Linked DNA regions of Homo sapiens. The protein of the gene in region 7 purifies or fractionates together with the protein of the main gene of each other region. This does not show direct contact. Each region holds a gene or a part of one and is shown on either strand. Other genes may lie near its edges. The genes, in order: PPME1, IVNS1ABP, RNFT1, PPP2R1B, CNN2, HABP4 and PDCD10.

Evidence for each region.
Region 1: the proteins of PDCD10 (region 7) and PPME1 fractionate together in Homo sapiens (co-fractionation; one large-scale study listed by BioGRID). This does not show direct contact.
Region 2: the proteins of PDCD10 (region 7) and IVNS1ABP fractionate together in Homo sapiens (co-fractionation; one large-scale study listed by BioGRID). This does not show direct contact.
Region 3: the proteins of PDCD10 (region 7) and RNFT1 purify together in Homo sapiens (affinity purification with western blotting, with the first as the bait; one study listed by BioGRID). This does not show direct contact.
Region 4: the proteins of PDCD10 (region 7) and PPP2R1B purify together in Homo sapiens (affinity purification with mass spectrometry; one large-scale study listed by BioGRID and IntAct). This does not show direct contact.
Region 5: the proteins of PDCD10 (region 7) and CNN2 fractionate together in Homo sapiens (co-fractionation; one large-scale study listed by BioGRID). This does not show direct contact.
Region 6: the proteins of PDCD10 (region 7) and HABP4 purify together in Homo sapiens (affinity purification with mass spectrometry; one large-scale study listed by BioGRID and IntAct). This does not show direct contact.

Annotation. Positions count from the first base shown.
Region 1 is NC_000011.10:74,244,289-74,247,788, reverse strand, and holds part of PPME1 (protein phosphatase methylesterase 1), read right to left. Parts: exon of another isoform or gene 2,294-3,500; intron 1,756-2,293; coding exon of another isoform or gene 1,714-1,755; coding exon 1,584-1,713; intron 711-1,583; coding exon 666-710; intron 1-665. UniProt on the Homo sapiens protein: Demethylates proteins that have been reversibly carboxymethylated. Demethylates PPP2CB (in vitro) and PPP2CA. Binding to PPP2CA displaces the manganese ion and inactivates the enzyme.
Region 2 is NC_000001.11:185,307,244-185,310,743, forward strand, and holds part of IVNS1ABP (influenza virus NS1A-binding protein), read right to left. Parts: intron 2,269-3,500; 5' UTR 2,251-2,268; coding exon 2,140-2,250; intron 1,930-2,139; coding exon 1,760-1,929; intron 1,633-1,759; coding exon 1,557-1,632; intron 420-1,556; coding exon 246-419; intron 1-245. UniProt on the Homo sapiens protein: Involved in many cell functions, including pre-mRNA splicing, the aryl hydrocarbon receptor (AHR) pathway, F-actin organization and protein ubiquitination.
Region 3 is NC_000017.11:59,954,741-59,958,240, forward strand, and holds part of RNFT1 (E3 ubiquitin-protein ligase RNFT1), read right to left. Parts: intron 2,643-3,500; coding exon 2,484-2,642; intron 1,814-2,483; coding exon 1,748-1,813; intron 1-1,747. UniProt on the Homo sapiens protein: E3 ubiquitin-protein ligase that acts in the endoplasmic reticulum (ER)-associated degradation (ERAD) pathway, which targets misfolded proteins that accumulate in the endoplasmic reticulum (ER) for ubiquitination and subsequent proteasome-mediated degradation.
Region 4 is NC_000011.10:111,759,890-111,763,389, forward strand, and holds part of PPP2R1B (serine/threonine-protein phosphatase 2A 65 kDa regulatory subunit A beta isoform), read right to left. Parts: intron 1,163-3,500; coding exon 930-1,162; intron 63-929; coding exon 1-62. UniProt on the Homo sapiens protein: The PR65 subunit of protein phosphatase 2A serves as a scaffolding molecule to coordinate the assembly of the catalytic subunit and a variable regulatory B subunit.
Region 5 is NC_000019.10:1,033,108-1,036,607, reverse strand, and holds part of CNN2 (calponin-2), read right to left. Parts: intron 542-3,500; coding exon of another isoform or gene 479-541; coding exon 362-478; intron 193-361; coding exon 46-192; intron 1-45. UniProt on the Homo sapiens protein: Thin filament-associated protein that is implicated in the regulation and modulation of smooth muscle contraction. It is capable of binding to actin, calmodulin and tropomyosin. The interaction of calponin with actin inhibits the actomyosin Mg-ATPase activity.
Region 6 is NC_000009.12:96,481,169-96,484,668, reverse strand, and holds part of HABP4 (intracellular hyaluronan-binding protein 4), read right to left. Parts: intron 208-3,500; coding exon 36-207; coding exon of another isoform or gene 12-35; exon of another isoform or gene 10-11; intron 1-9. UniProt on the Homo sapiens protein: Ribosome-binding protein that promotes ribosome hibernation, a process during which ribosomes are stabilized in an inactive state and preserved from proteasomal degradation.
Region 7 is NC_000003.12:167,696,893-167,700,392, forward strand, and holds part of PDCD10 (programmed cell death protein 10), read right to left. Parts: intron 235-3,500; coding exon 117-234; intron 1-116. UniProt on the Homo sapiens protein: Promotes cell proliferation. Modulates apoptotic pathways. Increases mitogen-activated protein kinase activity and STK26 activity. Important for cell migration, and for normal structure and assembly of the Golgi complex.

The DNA.
Region 1 (3,500 bases), on a different chromosome or scaffold from region 7:
CTGGCCAGCTGCAGTGGCTCACACCTATAATCTTCGCACTCTGGGAGGCCAAGGCAGGTGGATCACTTGAGGTCAGGAGCTTGAGACCAGCCTGGCCAAAATGGTGAAACTCCATCTCTACTAAAAATACAAAAATTAGCTGGGCGTGGTGGTGCATGCCTGTAATCCCACTACTGGGGTGGGTGAGGCCCGGAACTGCTTCAACCTGGGAGGTAGAGGTTGCAGTGAGCCGAGATTGGTCCCACCGCACTCCAGCCTGGGCAACAGAGTGAGACTCCAATTCAAAAAAAAAAAAAAAAAAAAAACCCACAAACAAAAAACTGATCAGTAGTCAGAATATCTCTTTTCACAGTATCATACACCTATACAGTACTTTATAATTTTTAAACACATTGCCTCATTTTAACTCTTATAACTGAGACATAGGTAGTAGTATTATAATCTTCATTTTTGGATGGATTTTTTTTTAAACAAATTAAAGCTCAGGAAAGGGAAATACTTGCCCATAATCATATAGTGTGTTAGGAGTAGAGGCGGATGTCCAACTTGGGTCGGACTCTAAAGCTCATGCTTTCTCCGTTATACCTCACTATCTCAGGATGTTAACTGCCCTATCACCCTTTCTTCAGAAAAGGGTCCAGGGGTATAATTTCTTGATAACTTACCTTGCATCTGGCCAATGGTCAGATCTTTATCCAATCTATCAACACCTAGAAAACAAGAGAATTCATTGTGAAACAGATTTTGCTGTTCACGTATTAAGTAAAAAGTGTTACAAAGTTTTAAATATGATGACATTCTCCATTCATGTTTATACCAATCCTAACTCCCAGAGCATACTCTCACCACCAGATAAAACTTTTCAGGTTGAGATTCCCCTATAATTACTATGTTAAACTGGTTCTGAAAACAAGGTTTTACTATTTTAATTCTCATAATAATCAGAATATCCTTATACCACTGCATCTAGCTCTAGACTAAGAAGGACTTGAGCTTGACCAAGTAGACAGGCCAGGCCAGAATTAGGTCATCCTTTATGCTTAGATGAATGCTTATGCTTAGTTAGGTTTAGAGACTGGGTGTGGGGAGGAGAAAAGGCATAGATGAATGAGGAAGGTACTCTACTTTGGATGTCACTACTCATTTGGTGAGAAGTTTTAATGAGGTCATATTGAGATGACAATATACCAACACTGCTATGGACTGAGTTGTGTCCCCCTAAAACTCATGTTGAAGCCCCAATTCCCAATGTGACTGTATTTGGAACTAGGGCCTATAAGGACGTAACCTCAGGTCATGAGGGCAGAGCTCTGACATGATAGGATGAACGTCCCTAATTAATATCCTTAAGAGAAGAGACACCAGAGAGCTCACATTCACTCTTTCTCGGCCATGTGAGGGCACAGAGAGAAGGCAAGCCAGGAAGACAGCCCTCACCACAACCTGACCATGCTGGCACCCTGATCTCAGACTTCCAGCCTCCAGAACTGTGAGAAAATAAATTTCTGTTGTTTAAGCCACTCAGTCTATGATATTTGGTTATGGCAGCCTGAGCTGACTAATATATGCACATATACACTTACCAGCCAAGAGCAGCAATTTAGGAATGGGACAACTAAGAAAGAGATTGGATAAGCCTCGGAACCAGCCGTCCCAGTATTTTTCTGTTTTTGCCAGTTCAATTCTCCAGGTGTATGGATGGTCTTTCTTGGTCTGGAGGAATAAGAGCAAGTTCTGAGTCTCCGAGGGCAACCCCTGGAGGAACAGGATTAAAAACTAGATCCCTGGGAAAAGGAAAGGGAAGGAAACTAGCACTTATTAAGGACCTACTAAGTCCTAGACATTTTAATATACATTCAATCCTTCCAACAGTCTTGTTGTATGGGTCACTGTTAATATTCATTTTAAGATAATTACAAGTTTACTTTTTATTGCTATTAGTTTCTGTGAATTTAGGAAACTTTCTTAAGATCACAAAGCTAGTAAGTGGTAGTGCCAAGATTAAGCCTTTCTTATACTTGGTTGGCAAAAGGATGTTTCATCAAAAGAATAACTACAAAGAACATACTGCAGTATGAAAAAATGCTTATAATATAAGCAAGAAACAGATTACAACATGTCATCTAAGTTAGGATTACTACTGGAAAAATGTGGTATAGTAAAGTACTAAAAAGGAAAACTGAAAATAGGTTGATTTGTCAGTAGAGCATTTTTTCTTATATTTTATGATAATGATATAATGTTCCTGCAATAGTAATTTTGAAAGGAAATATGAGACAAATATGACAAAATGTCAACATTTATTAAATCTTTATTGTAGATAAGCACAGAGTATGCAATCAAATATTGGCTGAAAAAATAAATAATTCTCTATATTTTTCTGTACCATTGAAATATTTGAAACATTATAATTGAAATAAATATACTGAATCAACCACAATATGAAAATCTAAAAGTGAACATGAGATAGTAACATATTATCTTAAAGATCACTGGATGCTTAAGATGTCCATACTACCCAAAGTAATCCACAGATTCAATATAATCTCTATCAAAATTCCCATGGCTTTTTTTTTTAGGAAATAAAAAAAATCACCTTAAAATTCATATGGAATCTCATAGACACTGACTAGCCAAAACAATTTTGAAGAAGAACAAAATTGGAGAACTCACACTCCCCAATTACAAAGCTGCAGTAATTGAAACAGCTTAGTACTGCCGTAAAGACAAATAGACCAGTGGAATAGAATAGAGAGCCCAAAAATAAACCTTCACATAAATAGTCAAATGATTTTTGACAAGACTGCCAAGACCACTCAATGGGGAAAGAACAGTCTCTTCAACAAACAGTACTGGGATAACCAAACAGATATGCATATTCCAAAGTGAAGCTGGGGCCTTATCCCATATCCAAAAATTAACTCAAATGGATTAAAGACCTAGTAAGACTAAGACTATAAAACTCCTAGAAGAAAACATGGAGGAAAAGCTGGACAGTAGACTTGGTAATGATTTCTTGGATATGACACCAAAAAGCAGTGAACAAAAGCAAAAATAGACAAATGGTACTATGTGTATGGAATGGGAGAAAATCTTTGCAAATCATATATCTTATAATGGATTAATATTCAGAATATATAAAGGACTCCTACAATTCAGCAACTAAAAACATCGAGTAACCTGATTAAAAAATGGTCAAAGGGCTTGAATAGACATTTCTCTAGAGGTGATACAGAAGTGGCCAATAAGCATATGAAACGATGCTTAACATCACTAATCAATAAATAAATGCACAGCAACACCACAATGAGATACCACCTCACCCCCATTAGGATGACTACTATCAAAAAAGAGAAAAATAAGTGTTGGTGAGGATGTGGAGAATTCGGAAGGAACCCTTGTGTACTGAGTTGTAAAATAGTTCAACCAATAAGAAAAACATCAAGGCAGTTCCTCAAAATATTAAAAACAGAACTACTGTATGATCCAGGAATCCCACT
Region 2 (3,500 bases), on a different chromosome or scaffold from region 7:
TACATTTACTCTAATTTGTAAGGAACCAGGAATTTGTAAGGAACCAGGAATTTGTAAGGAATTTGATTACTGAATCAAAAACAAAGTAAACAAACTGGTAGGGAGAAACCCATTACGCTGCTAAGAATAACAATATAATTTCAATGTATTATTTCATAATCATTACTCACTTGCTTGAAACACAGACCAAGATTCCACGCCTGGAACTAGATAGTATATATCTGTTTATAGACTTTACTCCTTACCTTTAGCCTTGGAAGCTTAAGAAACTCCTCCTCTTCAGAAATTTGTAACAAATGCTCCTGAATATAAGCATCAACCTTATTCAACAAACGGGAGTCTCCCATACAACTTGCAAAATTTCGGTAAGAGATGCAGCTGGTAACATCCATTCTAGACAGTAAATAATCACCACAAACCTTGGAAAAGAAATATATGAGTGCCAACACTTACATATCTTTTATTCAACAAATATTTAATGTTCAGTGTGGTAAAGACTATGTGAAGATACAAAGAATCAAAAATCACTGTCTTAATACAACAAATGTTAATAGTGGTAATAACACGTATACAAATGATAAACATCTAATTATGCCATACAGATATGTAAGTTTTAGTTTAAGGAGAGGTACAACAAATTGAAATGCTATGTAAGTTCACATAAGTATTTTCAAGTAGAATAATTTGGTAAGGCTTCATGAAACGCAGTATCTGAACTGGGCTCTACAGGAGAGATGATGTTGATGTTGAATGCAGACAGAAGTAGAGAAGATGCTGCAAACAATTTAATTTGGTTGGAGAAAAGATAACTAGGAAATAGTTTTGGAAAGACAGCAACTATATAAGGGAAAATCTAGAAACTAAATGCAGGGATATGTACTGTAAATTAAGGAAGGATTTTTGAACAAAGGAGTGGTATTAGAAGAAGGGCTAGCAAATCAAACTTTTTCTTAAAGGGCCAGATAGTAAAAGCATTTTAGGCTTGTAGGCCATTCTGTTTGTCACAACTGCTCAATTCCGTCACTGTAGCTGGAAAGCAGTGTAGACCATATGTAAATGAACACACATGGCTGTGTTTGAATAAAACTTTATAAAAATAGGCAGCTGGCCAGTAGGCCTTAAGTTTACTGACCCCCATGCATTAGGGGATTAAATGCCTGTTTTCCAAAAGTACTTTTTACTGGCATTAAATTCTAGAAGGAATACTTTTAGAGAGCACAGGAAGTTTAGGAGAACACAGAATTGAGGATATAAGTTATGTGATTAACTCTTAAGAAAAATATTAATTTTAATTCATGCTATCAAAGGCTGACATAGCCACCCTACCAGAGAAGATTGCTGAAAGGGTCAGACTTCAGCCCAAATTATCTGAGAAGAAGTGTGATCTTGCTACATTATTATAGCCAAACAGTTAAAATAACATATTGACTACTCTGAGGGAAAAAAGGGACATGTTCAAGTCCTTGAAACTAACAAGATGTTTTATGACAAATTCAGCATTGCAATCACACAAAATAAGACTCCATAAATGATTTTATTTACTTCTGATACTCTACCTGCTTTACTCGATCCATCTTCAGCTTTTTTGCTGCAGAATAAACATCTTTTACCAATTCCTTATCTGCTTTCAACCTATTTAAAAAAAAAGTTACTTATGATACCAAAGCCTTAAAACACACTTAATTTAAATATATGTAGCAAGACTTGGAATTTTCTGAAGATATTCCCTAATTATATGGTTTACTTCAAATGTACTTACTGAGCAGTGTAGGCATAATTCAACAAGACTTCAACAGCTTCTGGATTGAGATCATCAAATTTAACGTGAGAAATTCCATGAGGATCACTATCACTATTAAAGATTTCAAATAAATAGGGACTGCAGCAAGCTAGCACTGCTCTGTGTGCTAACATTTCATGGCCACAGACCTGAAATTATGAAGAATTATAATTATAAGTATTGTGGATTATGTGCTTCTCTAGCTAATTACTATATCAGATTCCTTTATCTTACATTTCTCAGTATTCTTTTAAAAAATCATTTCATTAAATGCCTATGAAAAAGAAATAAGCAAATCTAAGAACTTATGGCTTTTAGTAATAAAAAATTCTATAAATTTTGAATTAAGTTTTAAATACCTGAAGTCGAACATCACAGAACTGGCCACTTTTCCTCAGGGCATTTAATTTGGCAACAGAAGACTCAATAAAATTTTCATCCTCAAACATCAAATATCCATTGGGAATCATTTTTCCTTATAAATTTGGCTAGATGATGAAAAGAAAGCTGAGTTATTTTACTTGCAACTGATGGTTTTAAAAATATAATGCTAAAGAGTAATACAGTCTCTTTATTCTCAAATTCCATCCTATAAACAACACATAAAAATTTCATCACACAAAAACTTAGCTGAAACAACACCTGTGTTGAATGTCCAAGTCTTTGTTCCCTAATACTTTGGTCATAAGACTTTTAAAGGATTCAAACAGTAGCAGCTATCTCGACAATTTTGGCCAGGTTCCCATGCCCATTAAGCAAATTCATTCTGAAGGGAAGGGAAGGGAAGGAAACGAAACTCCATCCTGCCCAAACCCATATAATAAGTAATCTAAAAGCCTGAAAGGGTGAAATAGCCAGTACATATAGGTTTCCTTGGATTTGGGCTCCTGTCATTCCTTTACCCACAAATGAGAAAAACTGTTACTTATCCTAATCCTAGCCTTTTTCAGTTGTCTTAAAGGGCCCCCAATTTGCTTCTAGTCTTCAAAATTATATATAATCAAGATTTATATGCAGAAAATTGCCTAATGTCTTCCTCCCTTGCCTAGTACACAAACTTAAAAAGTCTGATTAGTCTTGTCACTGTATCTACGAAATTATTTTTATAAATGTTTTGAAACATATACAGTGATTTAAAAAGATGAACTTATATTCTGTTCCTTTCTTTCATATATTCTAAATCACTTATCTCATCAGATTATATAAATATAAATGGGAACTTACAACTTTTTTGCATTTTACCATTACTTATAAACAACTGACTAATGACTACACAAAATGCATAATTAAAAAACAGTGATAGGCTGGGCGCTATGGCTCACACCTGTAATCCCAGCACTTTGGGAGGCCGAGACAGGTGGATCATTTGAGGTCAGGAGTTCAAGACCAGCCTGGCCAACATGGTGAAACCCTATCTCTACTAAAAATACAAAATTTAGCCAGGCATGGTGGCGGGCGCCTGTAATCCCAGCTACTTGTGGGGGCTGAGGCAGGAGAATTGCTTGGGAGGCAAAGGTTGCAGTCAGCTGAGATTGTGCCACTGTACTCCAGCCTGGGCAACAGAGAGACTCCATCTTAAAAAAATAAAATAAAATAAAGAACAGTAATAGGGAGGCCAAGGCAAGAAGATTGCTTGAGCCCAGGAGTTTGAGACCAGTCTGGGAAACATAGTGAAATCCTGTCTCTACAAAAAATGTAAAAATTAGGCAGTCATGGTGGT
Region 3 (3,500 bases), on a different chromosome or scaffold from region 7:
AAATTATTCGAAATTATAAAAAGCATTTAGTGCTAAACATAAAAAAGTTTTACGGAGAAACTGCAACTGTAAATGTCGCTTTGGTAGAATAACTACTGTCAAAACTAACTGAACAAAAATGCAATTATTTGAATTTTCTTCTCTTCTAATGTCCTAATAACAAGTTACTCGTCTCTAAGATTTTAACCTCCTCACCAGATTCAGAACTTAGTCATTAACTAGATGTGATGTCAATAACCCTCAGTGAAATTTGGAGAAATCAAAATGTTACAAATGAAACCTGCTTTCTGTAGAAATGATGGGGAAGAGGTAACTAAAGAGATGTAAGAACACCCAAGTCAGTCACGGTCATGAGGGTAAAGCATGACTTAACATAGCTGAAGTTATCTAAACTTCTTGTACTAAAACGTCTCAGGCTAACAACATCAAAATCAAAGTAAAACTCAAAGGATAAAGATATTAAAAATTGAGGTTTTTTGAAACTGGTAATAAAGATTTCAGAAATAAGTCAGGATACTGTTAGATGATCTTGGTGTCAATTTCCCTTCAGTAAGGTGTCATTTAGCAAAGTACATTTGCAGATAATTATGCTGACAAGCTTTTAAGACGTTACTCATCTGGCATCTTGGAGACTCCCTCTCCAGATAGTAACTGCCATTTCCCTGGTAAAGGAGACTTGAACAAATCCAAGTATTGATGACTGATATCCTCTCTGTAGTTTGTCTCAGAGAAAGAATATCAGGGTATTTTCTTGAGAGTATTTCGGCACAAATCTTACAAGACCAATTATAGTAAAATGGTTGATGCTCACATAATCATCAGTTGAACTGACTTGGACAAAGCTGAACTCTCTGAATTTTATTATGTCTTGTCTAGAGAAACAAGCTTGCATAGGATGTAGCAAAGTTTGTTTCTACATTGCTAACTCTATCTTAGGGAAAAGGCCCTGGCCAGTTAGTCTCGTTTACTTTGTAGACATAATTCTTTTTTTATTTTTACGGTATATTATTCGGTTGGCATTCTTTTAAGTCAGTCTCCTTGGGCCCTGATGAAATGACTGCAAAATTGAGAATCAAACCCTGAAGTCTGCTGACCACACATAGGTACTAGGAACCTTTCAGGCTACTAAGTGGTAAATTAGGGTTCTCTATGACATCCTTTCACTGCAATTTGCAACATCAATAGAATCACACAATAATGTTATAAATGACACCAGAGACTCAATTAATTGTTAAATTTCATGCCATGAACGTATTTATGCACATATAATTGAGCAATGGGGAAATCTGCTCCAGTAAGAAAACTGCAAGAGACATGATTTTTGGCAGTGAGCTTTCTAAACAATAAATTACAATGGAAGGATTTTCACAGGTGAATAAGGAGTTAATAGGAACAAACAAAGCCCCCATTTGTGGATTAAAAAAGAGGAACACAATTTCATAAGATTGTTAAGGGTTTACAAGCCTTAAAAATGTCCAGTGGATTGAAGAGGCAAGAGACAAGTTCAAATATATAAGCACTGCAACAATTAGCAGGTGGTTGTCAATGTGTGATTCAAGAATCTGATCACAGAGATAAAACTCCTAAATTATTATAGCCCCAAGTGCCAAAGTACTAGAAAATAATCAAAGTAAAAGAAAAGGATCATCTATTTATGAAATCCATTCTTGTAAAACTGCTGAACTAAAAAAATTTTTGCAGTGAAGAAAGGTGAAGGTGTTTTTCTTAACTGATAAAAAGTACTTACTGGTTGTGTAAAAAATATTCGTAAAACCTGTCTGAAAGTTCTCAGATGCCCAAAAAATTCCAAAAGCTGAAAAGAGAAATAAGAGATCATTTATTAATTCAAACAGTCCTATTTGCTAAACCCAAAAACCAAAGCTGAAATCCCATAACATCAAATCCTCATATTAACTTAATGTTCATTATATGTCACATCTAATCATTTTGTGCTGAGTATTTTATTCAATTTATAGATTTGAGCCATCTCAGCAAGCTGAAGTACATTTAAACACCTAGAGTAACAATTTGATCAAGACAAATACAACTATGTCAAAGTCAAAGCAATTTTATCTGATTCACCTGTTTTTAACATTTAGATTTTAAAGTTTCATAAAGTGATTATTAGGTTGAGGGGTGCAGGCATGGAGAGAACAGGACAAGATACTCTACTAGTTTAAGAATTATGTGTATGACAATGTTACTGTTGAGGATGGGTATGTTCTATTCCACTTGTTTTCCCTACTTAGATAATCCACGCTATGTGAAGGTCGACTCCCCTTCCCTCCAGTGAAACCTGAGGACCGCTGGATTAAGATAGTCTATTTCCGTTTCTCCATTTCTAAACAAATATAGAACCTGCTATTACTTCAAACTAGTGATATGAAGATAAACTATAAAACTGTTAAAAGAGGAAAACAGTAGTATGTATCAGTAATCATTAATGTGAATCATGCAGTGACAAGATTTGTAATGTTACCTACTTTTAATATGAGGTAGAGTAAAGCCAGCAGTATCCCAAGACTCCATCTAGTTACGTTACCAAACTCCCCATAGCTTATAAGGTAGCGAAACCAAACTGGTATGGGAACAAAAGTTCGGTAGTATTGACACAATTCTTCTAAAAGCATATACCAGTAACCCTAAAAAATAAGAAGAAAACAAATAGAGCTACCCAAACTACTTAACTACATAGCACAAACAATATTAGACTGAGAACACTGAGTATATTATACAATAATATAAATAACTATAAAATTAATCTTCATAATGATTATGACTGAACCTCAAGCTGGTTCTCACATATTACAGTCACTGAGTGGCCTGCTTTGAAAGAATTTCTAGGTTGGACGCAGTGGCTCCCAGCACTTTGGGATGGGCAGATCACCTGAGGTCAGGAGTTCGAGACCAGCTGGCCAACATGGTGAAACCCCGTCTCTACTAAAAATACAAAAATTAACTGGGTGTGGTGGTGGGCACCTGTAATCCCAGCTACTCAGGAGGCTGAGGCAGGAGAACTGCCTGAACCCAGGAGGCGGAGGTTGCAGTGAGCCAAGATCACACCACTGCACTCCAGCCTGGGCAACAGAGCGAGAGACAATCTCAAAACAAAACAAAACCAAAAAAAAAGATACAATGAGAATGTTTTATGTATACTGCAAGTAAAACCTATGTGAGTATGTTTTTGCTGATTATAAGAATTTAAAAGTTTTTAGTGCATATGGGAAACCACTGAATAATTGTACATAGTCAACTGTCAATTGATAATGCCCTGGAGAACAGAAGTACACATCTAAATAGTTTCCCACATATGATGTGGGGACTGATTTTAAAATTATTCTGAAGCAAATATAATTCTGATTTTATCCAAATAGGTTAATAATCAGGTTCAAGTGCCTGAACAAATGGTTGCTAAGCTGAAATAATACAGATAATTAAGCTAGTTAGCAAACTGAAAAACTGCAAAAGGAGGATTCATTTAAACAAAGACTAAATAGCAT
Region 4 (3,500 bases), on a different chromosome or scaffold from region 7:
ATTTGGAAGCAGCAGCACGTCGTACCATTGGTGTGTCATCTGAGCACAAGGAACGGAATTGCCTGCAACATAAAACAATGAAGGTATTTCCCATCAAATAACACTGAATAAACCTGCCCCCCATACACACAGACAGACTTTTAGAGGTTTTATCTTACAATAATCAGTGACTAAGCTTCTACTTATAGAAGTAACAAAAATAAAACATATTCAACTGGATAATAAAAAATGACATCATAGGCCAGGCATGGTGCCTCACACCTGTAATCAAAGCACTTTGGGAGGCCCAGGTAGGAGGACTGCTTGAGGCCAGGAATTGAAAGCAGACTGGGCAACATAGCAAGACCCTATCTATATGCCAAAAATATTTTTGTTGTTGTTTGTCGGGGGCTCAAGTGAACTCCCACCTCAGCCTTCTGAGTAGCTAGAAATACAGGCGGGTCCCACCATGCCCAGCTAATTTTTTTCTTTTTAGTAGAGACAAGGTCTCACTATGTTGCTCAAGCTGGTCTTGAACTCCTGAGTTCAAGCAATCCTCCCACCTCAGCCTCTCAAAGTGCTGGGATTACAAGCATGAGCCACTGCATCCAGCCAGAAATTTTTTTTAAAAATTAGCCAGGCGCAGTAGTGTATGTCGGTAGTCCTAGCTACTTGGAGGCTGAGGCTGGAGGATCACTTAAGCACAAGAGTTCAAGGTTGCAGTGAGCTATGATTGTGCCACCGCACTCCAGCCTAGACAACAGAGCAAGACCTTATCTCTTAAAAAAAAAAAAGAAAGATGTCATAAATCCTACTATCCTAGTATCAGCCACTCATTGGTAACAAGGTACTATGTAAATTGTCAGCTACAAGTCCCCAGTAATCCCAAATAACTCATAGCTTACTACCTGATTTCTGCTTTAACAAGGCAAAAAAATACCATGGCTTACTGTCTGATTTCTGCTTTAACAGCATTTGATGCCCTGGGATAGCAAACGCTGAACAAACCACATGCAGATGTGCGAGAGGTGAACCAATCCCCACTTGCTAAGCGTTTCACCAGAGGTACAAAATAAGCTTCCAGAGCAACAGGAGTATGCTCCTGGGAGATCTGTCTCAGGGACTCCACAGCCTTGTCACGAACAACAGTCTCTTCCACAGTTGCCAGATTTTCCAAAGGAGGCTGAATGGATTAAAAAGGAAAACCAGAGAAGAAAACTTATTGAATCAGGTTAGAAACAGATAATCACCTTTTAAAGTGACTGAAGGGAGGTGGTACACGTAACCAGAATGTTAGCTGCATCATACCAAATGGTTACTTTCAGCTCACACAGTGATAACATATGGTGCGGCCAACCCAAAGACACGACTTCTGTAGAAAAGCCAAGATCTCGTGTCCCAGATGGCAATTCCCAGATGGTGTCTACAAATGACACAGTGTAAAAGACTTGACACAATATTAATATTACTGTGAGTTGAATCACTAGGTTTAAAAGATACATAGCCAAATTCAGACAGGATCATGTATATTTCCTCAAGAGTAAGTACAAAACTATGACCAATGTTAGGCACCACAAATACAGGATAACAGCTTGTCAGGTCACTGAGTCCACAGCCTTTTCAGTATCTTTCCACCATTCCCAGAGGTGCAAGCAACCCTTATCCACCATCTCCATCCCATCCTTTTATCCAACCTATAAAATGCTGAATGCAAAATTGCTTTTTTCAGAACACATTCAGCAACTTTCCATTAGCCATAGGGCAGAAAGGAGTTTCTGACAGAACAATCAAGTGAAAACTACAGAGACTGGCCAGGCACGGTGGCTCACACCTGTAATCCCAGCCGTCGGGAGGCCGAGGTGGGCAGATCACTTGAGGTCAGGAGCTCGAGACCAGCCTGGCCAACATGGTGGAACCCTGTCTCTACAAAAAATACAAAAATTAGCCAGACATGGTGGCACACGCCTGTAAACCCAGCTTACTCAGGAGGCTGAGGCATGAGAATCACTTGAACCCGGGAGGCAGAGGTTGCAGTGAGCCGAGATTGTGCCACTGTACTTGAGCCTGGGTGACAGAGTGAGGCTCTTGTCTCAAAAAAAAAAGGTAAAGTACAGAGATGGTAGGACACCTTGCTTACAGCTTTAGAAATAAAAGAAGCCAAATGGGGTGGATGGTCTGGATTAAGAGCAGTAACTGAATATGGCATGGCCTAGTAAAAAGTGTAAACAGGCTGGCTCTCTGAACCTCTGCCTTACTGAGTTTGCATGTAGTCCAGGTAGATTCTACACATGCCATGAGCTACAGATTTTAAAGCATAAAACCCACATATAGAACTAACCAAGAGTGAAACAGAAGCATAATGAGTTAAAGAAAAGAAGTGTGTCTAATAATATATTTTAAAAATTGTTTGATACACACAGGTAGACAGTATTCAGCTTTCCTAGAAGGTATTTCAGAAACTCATTGAAAAGATACTGTTTCTCACTTGCCAATGCATTTCATGATCTGTCCCCTGCCTACTGTAACCCCCTCTCGTGCAGTACCACTGGATAATAGCTATCATTACTACAGGATGAGGCCATGCTCCTGAGAATTGCTTATGAGTGGTCTCTTGATTTGAACTCTGCCTGGCCCTTGATGACCACTCTGCCTACCCAGCCTCAACACTTCACACTCCAGCAGTTCTTTTTTTTTTTTTTTTTTAAGAGACAGGGTCTTGCTCTGTTGCCCAGGCTGAAGTGCAGTGGCACAATCATGGCTCAGTGCGGCCTCAGACTCCTCGTCCTTCTGCCTCAGCGTCCCGAATAGCTAGGACTCAGACACATGACATCATGCCCAGCTATTTTTTTTTAAGTGTTGGGGTCTCACTATGTTGCCCAGGCTGATCTTGAACTCCTGGCCTCAAGCAATCCTCCTGCTGCTTTGGCCTCCCAAGGCAAGGATTACAGGTGTGAGCCACCACACCCAGCCACACTCCGGCAGTTTTGAACCCAGCCTGTTTCATGCTTCCAAGCCTCTGAAACTCATTTTTTCAATACATTATTATTGGTATATTCTAGCATTGAGGACACAGAAGAAACAAGGCAGACAAGGTTCCTCACTCTAGTGGCATTTACATTCTAATGGAGTAAGACAACAATCAATCAAGAAAATAAGTAGATGGTGATGAGTACTCTATAGAAAAAAGGAGTAGGATGATGTAGTAAGGGATGACTGTGAGGCTATTTTAAGTTGAGTGGTTGGGGAAAACCTCCCTGAGGAGATGCATTGAAGTTGATCCCTGAATGACAAGGAGCCAGCCACAGAAAGCTTGAAAGAGCTTTTCATTAGAGGGAAGACCTAGGGCAAAGGTCCTAAGGGAATAATGAGCTTGGTTAGTTCAAAAAACAGAAAGATGACCAATGTGAATGGAAGAGGTTATCAAGGCCTTTTGCAGTCTGTTCCCTGCCTACTGTCACCTCTTCTCATGCAGTACCACTGGGCATATGATAATCCTACAGAGGCGGGTCATAAAAAGCCTT
Region 5 (3,500 bases), on a different chromosome or scaffold from region 7:
TAGAGGGGCAGGGAGAGGAGTCGGGGGCACCCGGGCGAGCCCCACCTGGCTGGCACACTTGTTCGTGCCCATCTGGAGGCTGATGGTCGAGTGGTCCATGGGGGGCAGGATATGGTTCTTGGGGTCATAGAGATGCCTTCTCGTGCCGTAGGCAGTCATGCCCGACTGGCTGGCGCATTTGTTGGTGCCCATCTGCAGGGAGGTTCGTGGGAGAGGTCAGACTGCACCCAACAAGCTTCCGGTCCCTCCCTGAAATTGAGGGACCACAGGGCTCCATGCCGCTGTCCCCCAATGCTGCTGTCCCCCAACACCGTGGTCCCCCAATGCCGTGGTCCCTGGGGCTGGGGGAGCTGTCGCCCACCTGCAGCCCGATGACGCACTGGCCAGCCTTCATGGTGGCATCGTCGAAATTCCGCTCCTGCTTCTCCGAGTACTTGACGCCAATGTCCACCCCGCTCTGCAGCCCCTTAGTCTTGGCCTGGGTGAGGGAAAGGGGCCGGGAGTACCAGCAGAGGGCAGCCAGGGACCCTAGATCTAGGCCCTGGGGGCGGGACAGAGACCAGGCCGCGGCCTGTCACCTCTGCCTGCCGCGCAGAGCCCCCACAGGCACATCTCTCGGGTGTCTGGGACTCCACACACTCCACACACCCATCATACAGCTGTTTCAGTTTTTTATTTTTATTTTTGAGATGGAGTCTGGCTCTGTCACCCAGGCTGGAGTGCAGTGGTGTGATCTCCGCTCACTGCAACCCCCTCCTCCCAGGTTCAAGCAATTCTCCTGCCTCAGCCTCCCAAGTAGCTAGGATTACAGGCGTGTGCCACCACGCCAGGCTAATTTTTGTATTTTTAGTAGAGACGGGGTTTCACCATGTTGCCAGGCTGGTCTTGAACTCCTGGCCTCAAGTTATCCACCCGCCTCAACCTCCAAAAGTGCTGGGATTACAGGCGTGAGCCACCGCGCCCAGCCCATGGGGCTGCTTCATCCCAGCGTGCCTTGTCTTAGGCAACAGCTCAGCTTTCCAGGGCTCAGGCCAAGAATTCTGGGGATGGGGACGTGGTTTTCGCTTCCTCTCTCTCACCTTCCACCACCTCCTCTGACCCAATCCCCGGGCACCATGGCCAGGCCATTGGCTCTGCCCCTCACTGGGATGTCTGCGCCCGGCTCCTCCCTGACCACCATTCCCCACGTGAGGTTACTGGGAGCCACAGGGGGCATCTGAAAACACCATTTGGAGCAGTTACCCCAGGAGAAAACCAGCTCCCGCTTCCTCTAACAGCCCAGCCAATTCCAATGTCAAGACCTTGCTGTTCCTTCTACGTGAGACACCATGTCACAAACACACACTCCCATTCCATTCTACACCAGACACCGTGTCCCACCCACGCTCCCGGTCTACACCAGACACCGTGTCCCACCCACGCTCCCCGTCTACACCAGACACCGTCCCACCCACGCTCCCCGTCTACACCAGACACCGTGTCCCACCCACGCTCCCCGTCTACACCAGACACCGTGTCCCACCCACGCTCCCGGTATACACCAGACACCGTCCCACCCACGCTCCCGGTCTACACCAGACACCGTGTCCCACCCACGCTCCCGGTCTACACCAGACACCGTCCCACCCACGCTCCCGGTCTACACCAGACACCGTGTCCCACCCACGCTCCCGGTCTACACCAGACACCGTCCCACCCACGCTCCCGGTCTACACCAGACACCGTGTCCCACCCACGCTTACCGTCTACACCAGACACCGTGTCCCACCCATGCTCCCGGTCTACACCAGACACCGTCCCACCCACGCTCCCGGTCTACACCAGACAATGTGTCCCACCCACGCTCCCGGTCTACACCAGACACCGTCCCACCCACGCTCCCGGTCTACACCAGACACCGTGTCCCACCCACGCTCCCGGTCTACACCAGACACCGTCCCACCCACGCTCCCCGTCTACACCAGACACCGTGTCCCACCCACGCTGCCGGTCTACACCAGACACCGTCCCACCCACGCTCCCCGTCTACACCAGACACCGTGTCCCACCCACGCTGCCGGTCTACACCAGACACCGTCCCACCCACGCTCCCGGTCTACACCAGACACCGTGTCCCACCCACGCTGCCGGTCTACACCAGACACCGTCCCACCCACGCTCCCCGTCTACACCAGACACCGTGTCCCACCCACGCTCCCGGTCTACACCAGACACCGTCCCACCCACGCTCCCGGTCTACACCAGACACCGTGTCCCACCCACGCTCCCGGTCTACACCAGACACCGTGTCCCACCCACGCTCCCGGTCTACACCAGACACCGTCCCACCCACGCTCCCGGTCTACACCAGACACCGTGTCCCACCCACGCTTACCGTCTACACCAGACACCGTGTCCCACCCACGCTCCCGGTCTACACCAGACACCGTCCCACCCACGCTCCCGGTCTACACCAGACAATGTGTCCCACCCACGCTCCCGGTCTACACCAGACACCGTCCCACCCACGCTCCCGGTCTACACCAGACACCGTGTCCCACCCACGCTCCCGGTCTACACCAGACACCGTCCCACCCACGCTCCCCGTCTACACCAGACACCGTGTCCCACCCACGCTGCCGGTCTACACCAGACACCGTCCCACCCACGCTCCCCGTCTACACCAGACACCGTGTCCCACCCACGCTCCCGGTCTACACCAGACACCGTCCCACCCACGCTCCCGGTCTACACCAGACACCGTGTCCCACCCACGCTGCCGGTCTACACCAGACACCGTCCCACCCACGCTCCCCGTCTACACCAGACACCGTGTCCCACCCACGCTCCCGGTCTACACCAGACACCGTCCCACCCACGCTCCCCGTCTACACCAGACACCGTGTCCCACCCACGCTCCCGGTCTACACCAGACACCGTGTCCCACCCACGCTCCCGGTCTACACCAGACACTGTCCCACCCACGCTCCCGGTCTACACCACTGTCCCACCCACGCTCCCGGTCTGGGTTTGAAGATCACTAGACACTCAACATTCGTCTGATTCTTCTCCTTCAAGGCATTTCTCCCAGTTCAGAGCTTATTTATTACTTTTGTTATGATTATTTTTTGAGAGAGTCTTGCTCTGTTGCCCAGGCTGGAGAGCAGTGGTGTGGTCATAGCTCACTGCAACCTCTTAACTCCTGGGCTCAGCCTCCCGAGTAGCTGGGATTACAGGCATGCACCACCACGCCCAGGTAATTTTTGTTTTCTTAGTAGAGATGGGGTTTCACCATGTTGGCCAGGCTGGTCTCGAACTCCTGGTGTCAAGCAATTCTCCAACCTCGGCCTCCCAAAGTGCTGGGATTACAGGTGTGAGCCACTGCGCCCGGCCAGAGCTTACATATAATGCATAATACAATGCTGTGTTCACTTTTGCATGCCTCCGCCATCAGACTGAACTGCATAAGGGGTAGACCATGTCCTTCCTGTTCACCAAGGAATCTGAAGTACCTGGCACCT
Region 6 (3,500 bases), on a different chromosome or scaffold from region 7:
AAAGATTACCTCTACATACGAAATGCAATGCTTACATCATCTCTGTATTTTGACTTGTGAATCACCACGGCTTTGGAAGGAACAGTGGATTCTGGTTTCCGGATGTTAAACTCAGGCTTTGGTCTGGTCTGTTCTTGAAGATTTTTCCACTCATCTAAAGTCATCTCTTGAACTTGGGTTTCTTCTTCTACCTCCAACTCAGGAACTCTATAAAGAGATATATAATCATAAAGAATACTTTTTGATGGTACTAAAATGTCTACTTTATAAAGAAAAAGTTATAACCATTAATTCAACATATTTTTGTGGTACTGCATTTCAAATGCAAATAAGGTAAGGAAATCTTTGACTCACAAGCTTCCATATTTCATTTTCAACATTTTATGTCATCACTGCCAACAGAAGATACTTCCTATCTGTGTTCAAATCAATCTTTGAAAAATGGGAACATCACCATCCTGATGACATTAACATCACACTTCACCACTGGCACTCCCTTCCAGACAGCATGACAGACAAAATGAGGTAATTATGGACAATGGGTTGAAATAAAATACAGGAAACCATAAACAAGTTTTAAAGCAGTGGCTCATGAATGCATACTTTTGCAAATATCCTCTTTAATGAGTTTTAAAAAGAAAACAAAAGACAGAAATATAGATTGAGAGCAAAGAATTCAGAGTCCAGAAATAAACCCTCACATTTACGGTCAACTGATTTTTTTTTTCCAACCGTGGTGCCAAAGACAATTCAATGGAGAATGAAAAGTATTTTCAACAAACGGTGCTTGGGCAACTGGATATCCACACACACCAAAAGAAAGAATGAAGTTAGACCTACCTCACACCATAAATACAAGAGCTAAAATATAAAACTCTTAGCAGAAAACCTAGGCAGAAACTTTCTTAACCCTGGACTGGGCAATGGTTTCTTCCACATGACACCAAAAAAACAAGCAACAAAAGTACATACATTGAACATCATCAGATACTTTTATACTACAAAGGACACCATCAAGAAAGTAAAAAGACAGTCCACAAAATGGGATAAAATATTTACAAATAATATATCTCACAAGGGACTTGTATCTAGAATACATAAAGAATTCTTTATGAACAGCCAAGCGTGGTGGCTCATGCCGATAGTCCTAGCTACTCAGGGGGCTGAGGTGGGAGGATCGCTTGAGGCCAGGCATCTGAGGCTGCAGTGAGCTATGATCACACGTGTGAATGGCCACTGTGTTCCACCTTGGGCAACAGAATGAGACACTGTCTCTTTAAAAAAAAAAAAAAGAATGCTTTATGAATTCTAGATACAAGTCCTCTTTAGTTGAGACAAATGACCACCCTCCCCCCAAAAAAGGCAAGGATCTGAGTGAACATTTTTCCAGAGAAGATATACAAATAGGCAGTAAGATGTTGCACATCATTAGCTATTAGAGAAAGACAAGTCAAAACCACAGAGCTGCACCAGTCCACACCCAGTGGGATGGTTAGAACCAAAACGACATTTGACAAGCGTTGGGGAGGATGTGGAGAAACTGGAACCCACATACACTGCCAGTGGGAATGTGAAATGGTGTAGCCTCTTTGGAAAGCAGTCTGGCGGTTCCTCAAAAATCTAAGCTGAGTTAGCCTCTGACCCGGAAATTTCACTCCTGGGTTTATACCCAAGAGAAATGAAAACACACATCCACATGAAAACTTAAACCCAAGTGTTCACTGCAGTGCTATTCATAATAGCCAAAAAGTGGACACAACCTAAATGTCTATTAACTAATGAGTGGATAAACCAAATATGGCACATTTTTTGGAATATTATCTGGCAATAAAAAGAAACAAAGTATTAATACACATTACGACATGAACAAACCTTGAAAAAATGATGCAAGTGAAATAAACCAGGCAGAAAAGACTTCTGTGTATGATTCCATTTACATGAAATATTCAGAGGAGCCAGATTCACACAGACAGGAGGCAGGTCAGTGGTGGCCAGGGCTGCAGGGAGGGAGGATAGGGAGTGACTGCTGAATGGGCATGGGGTTTCCTTTTGGGATGATAACAACCTTCTGGAGCCAGATCATGGTGATGGTTGCATAACACTCTGAATGTACTAAATGCCACTGAATTGTACACTTTAAAAGGATTAAAATCGTAGATTTGAAAATCATCACAAAAATACACACAAAAAAAGAAAAACAGAAATGAAGACTGGCACATGCTACAACATGAATGAAGCTGAAAACTTGATGCTAATAGTTAAAATAAGCCAGGTGCAAAAGGAACATTGAACGATTCCACTTAGATGAGGCACCTAGAATAGGCAAATTCATAAACACGAGTAAAATAGAGATTACTACATGCTGAGGAGAAATGGGGAGTTAGTGTTAAATGGATATAGAGTTTCTGTTTGTGATGAAAAAGTTCTACAAGGCCAGGCACAGTGGCTCAAGCCTGTAATCCTAGCACTTTGGGAGGCTGAGGCAGGCGGATCATGAGGTCAGGAGTTCGAGACCAGCCTGGCCAATACGGTGAAACCCCGTCTCTACTAAAAAATACCAGAAAAATTAGCCGGGTGTAGTGGAATGTGCCTGTAGTCCCAGCTACTCAGGAGGCTGAGGCAGGAGAATCGCTTGAACCCGGGAGGTGGAGGTTGCAGTGAGCCGAGATCGCACCACTGCACTCCAGCCTGGACAACAGAGTGAGATTCCATCTCAAAAAAAAAAAAAAAGTTCTAGAGATGGATGGTGGTGATGGTTACACACAATATGAATGTTACTGATGCCATTAAATTATATATATTAAAATGGTAAAAATGGCAATTTTTATGTTATTTTTACTGCAATTTTAAAAAATTAATAATGTAACATACCCCAAACCATCCATCCATGCATTCAGTCGTTTACTCATTTATTTGTTTGATACAGGCTGGGTTTCACTCTGTTGGCCAGGCTGGAGTACAGTGGCATGATGATGGCTCACCATACCTTCAACCTCCTGAGCCCAAGGATCCTCCCACCTCAGCTTCCTGAGAGTAGCTGGGACTACAGGTACGAGCCATCAGGCCCAGCTAATTTTTACAACCATTTTGTAGAGACGGGGTCTCTCCATGTAGCCCATGCTGGTCTTGAACTCCTGGCCTCAAGCTATCCTCCTGCCTCTGCCTCCCAAAGTGTTGGGATTACAGATCTGAACCACCACACCTGGCCTATATACTTAGAGATTTGAGTGCTATAGTACGAGAATTATATCTCAAAAGTGTTTAAGGGGAAAAAACAGGCCGGGCGCGGTGGCTCACACCTATAATCCCAGCACTTTGGGAGGCCGAGGCAGGTGGATCATGAGGTCAGGTGTTCAAGACCAGCCTGACCAACATGGTGAAACCCCGTCTCTACTAAAAATACAAAAATTAGCTGGGTGTGGTGGCACACGCCTGTAATCCCTGTAATCCCAGCTACTCGGGAGGCTGAAGCAGGAGAATTGCTTGAACCCGGGAGGCGG
Region 7 (3,500 bases):
GAAAGGGAGGGAGGGAAAACAGTAGGGAAGGAAGATCCTTTGGTCAAATAATAATGATTTAGAGGAAGTGCTATTTAACAATTGTATAACTTAAACAAGGTTCTTCTGTCCGTTACCTTCTACATCATCAGCTGCCATACGAAGAAGGGACTCCGTGAAGTTAACTTCCACGCTTTTTTTCTCTAAAATTTTCATAATGATGTCTTGTGTGAGACCTGGATTTTCTTTTTCAGCCTATAATAAAGAGAAAACTAGTTTTGAAATACAGATAAGGAATCAACATTTTAAAGCCAAAGTTTAATTGTTTAGAATCTGTTGGGAGCGTCTTACACTGATAACTTTTAAGGGCAGAAATCTTTGTAAAGCAGGTGTCATGATAGCATTCACTAAGGCTTTGTTAGAGCTTGTGCACCCGACTCTTTACTATGACTAAGGTTCCATTTTCCATTTGAACAGAAAGAACTTAGTATTTTCTACTCTTCTTTATACTCTTTTGCAATTGAACTAATAACAAAGATAGAATTAAGGATTATATATGTTTTAGTAATCTATCAATTGCTATTCTCATTACTTTAAATATCTTGAGAATTTAAGCTTTTTTTAATGTGCTAATACTGCAACTCAAGGATCAAGCAATAACTCATCTGACTAGTGTTTTGCATATTCTTTCCATTTATATTAAGAGAATGCCAGGAAAAACAAAAAAGGATTTATTTTGAAGGTTTTACTGAACCTATATAATAATACCTTAACTATTTTCCCACACAATGATTTTCATTTCCTATTTTATTTTTGTAGCAAGAATATTTCCTTCACTGGTTTCTAGAACATCATGAAACCTTTTACTACCTTTTGAGCTTGTTTCATTGAGTTTGCATTGGTTCTATGTTACTTAGACTCCCCAAGACACTAAAATTTTCTAGCCATTTCAAGACTGGGCATAGAGTTCTGAGTTTACCAAAGCCAGAGTTAATCTTCAGATTTCAGTTTTTCCCAGTAAATTCTGTAATCACACTTGATGTTTGTTTCCTGTAGGATGCCTGCCAATTTTAATCATTATGCTGATGATTTTCTTTCCTTTTTGCCCTAATATTAAACAGCAAAATAGAAACACAATTTACGATCTTAATCAGATGGCAATCTTTTTGTTTCCTTATGTGTCAAGCACACTTAACCTCCGCCTCTTCAATTCCATTGATTATCACTGCAGATACAGTTTTCTTCTCTTCCTATTGCTCTTTCCATTATAACATCTTGTTTCTCATTAGATCTCAAGTATCAAAAACTGAAGGGTTGTGGGATGAAATGAGAAAAGAAAATACACGCATTTATTCCAATCTTCGGATCATTTTAAATGCTGTCAGATACTATTCAGGAAAATCATTTTGATAGATGATTAATAACAATAAACTGTGTTTGACTGAATCCTGTTTCTTTTACAGCCTATGTTGACTTTTCCTTCCATGGATATATATTTTAAAAAGAATCTACTTTTTAGCCAGGCATGGTGGGGTGTGGCTGTGGTCCCAGCTACTTGGTAGGTTGAGATGGGAGGACTGCTTGAGCCCAGGAGTTCGTGGCTGCAGCGAGCTATGATCATGCCACTGCACTCCAGCCTATGATACAGAATAAGACCTCGTATTAAAAACAAAACAAAACAAAAAAAACTGTGTTTTTTAAAAAAGGAGTTTCCTTTATAAGATGTCCAAATATGGCTTAAGATGTGTTGTTATAGCATTAATGCGGTGAACTGCCACAAAATTACATATAATGTAGCATTCAGTAACAATACTTTATCTTATCTAGCAATAAATCTTCCTACATAATGAATTATCTTGGGGAGAGGGGGAACATTCTCTATGTGCTTGCAGGGGACAGAAAAAGAAAAGCATATCTCTGATTAAGTTATAATAAAGTACTGAAAGGTTAAAATGCTGAAAGTCTGAGAATAAAGTTTTCAATACCAAGCTGGTCTGGGACCCCAAAATGCTAAAGCTAGAGCATTACAAAAGTCTCACAAAGGTCCCTAACTTTCTCAGTTTTCAGTGTCCTTAGTGCCAAAAGATACACCTCACAGTGCTGTTTATTAAATACTTAGGTCTAAACAACTTAATAAGTATAGTGTCCTAACTACCTAGCCTTTAAAAAAATAATACACATAAATTGAAAAAAACAATTTTTACTCTGTTCTTAAATAACTATTGTCACTTATTACTGGGATGTGTGTGCCTACTGGGCACTTCATAATTTCTCAAACATTGGTCTTAGATTGGACCTTGCCCCTCTCATTTCCTCTTGCAGATATATTTTTTTCTGGTACTTCTGTTAGATCATAGCACTGGCCAAAAAGTCCAGCTTCTCAATGATCTAACACCAATGAAAGCAGTGAAGGACAATCCAATATGCTAAATTGCAATCCATCTCAAGCTAGGAGTCCATGCAGTGTCAAACAGATGTTGAGTATCACTGTACACCTTCACAATTTTAAAATACTTCGTGGCACCCCTCTGAATTTGCTATGGGCCACCAGGTACCTCAGTACATAGTTTGGAAGGAGTAGTCTCAGTACCTCCTGGCTAAAAACCTGGTTAAGCTAATTCTTATTTCAAAAGCTTGAATTTACCAAATGGCTCTGACTGACAAAATGAATAAATATGGTCTTAAATCAGGGAGACAATCTACAACTCTTAGGTTTTCCCTCAGAATACAACATGAACCCTGTAGGGTGTCTAATCTTTGTAAAGAATCCAGCTGTAAGAAAAAAATAAACCGAAGGGCAGCAACATACACTCTTGTGGATCAGTGATTCTCAGTCTGGAAGACGGACAACCTATCGGAACCTCTCATAGAGGATAAGGGGGAGAGGGAATCAAGTAGAATATAGCTGACCCTTGAAGAACTGGTTTTAACTGCTCAGGTCCATTTACATGCAGATACTTTTCAATAAATATATAGGAAAAATTTTTGGAGATCAGCAACAATTTGAAAAAACTTATAGACAAACTGAGTAGCCTATAAGTAGTGAAAAAAATAATAAAAACACATGTTATGAATGCATAAAATATAGTTATCCACTAGTCTATTTTAGTATTTACTATAAAATAGATACAAATTATTAAAAAGTTAAAATTTATCAAAACTCACACGCAAACAGACTGTACATGGTGTTATTTGCAGTTAAAAGAAATATAAACAAATATACAGATGCAATATTAAATCATAACTGCACAAAATTAACTGTAGTACACGTGTATATGTAATAAGTTTGAAGCCACCTCCTGTTGCTATTGCAGTCAGTTCAAGTATTAGTAAGTATATGATTAAAACGCCATGTGACTCTAATCAACTCCATGTGAACAGTTCATCTCTCCAGCAAACTGCACATCCCAGTACAAAGTAATACCTCCCAGCCCTCACATATTTTTCTCATCGTGTTTAGTGCAATACTTTAAACATGGGATAATACCATGGGACCCGACAAAGTGCCACTAGTGATGTTG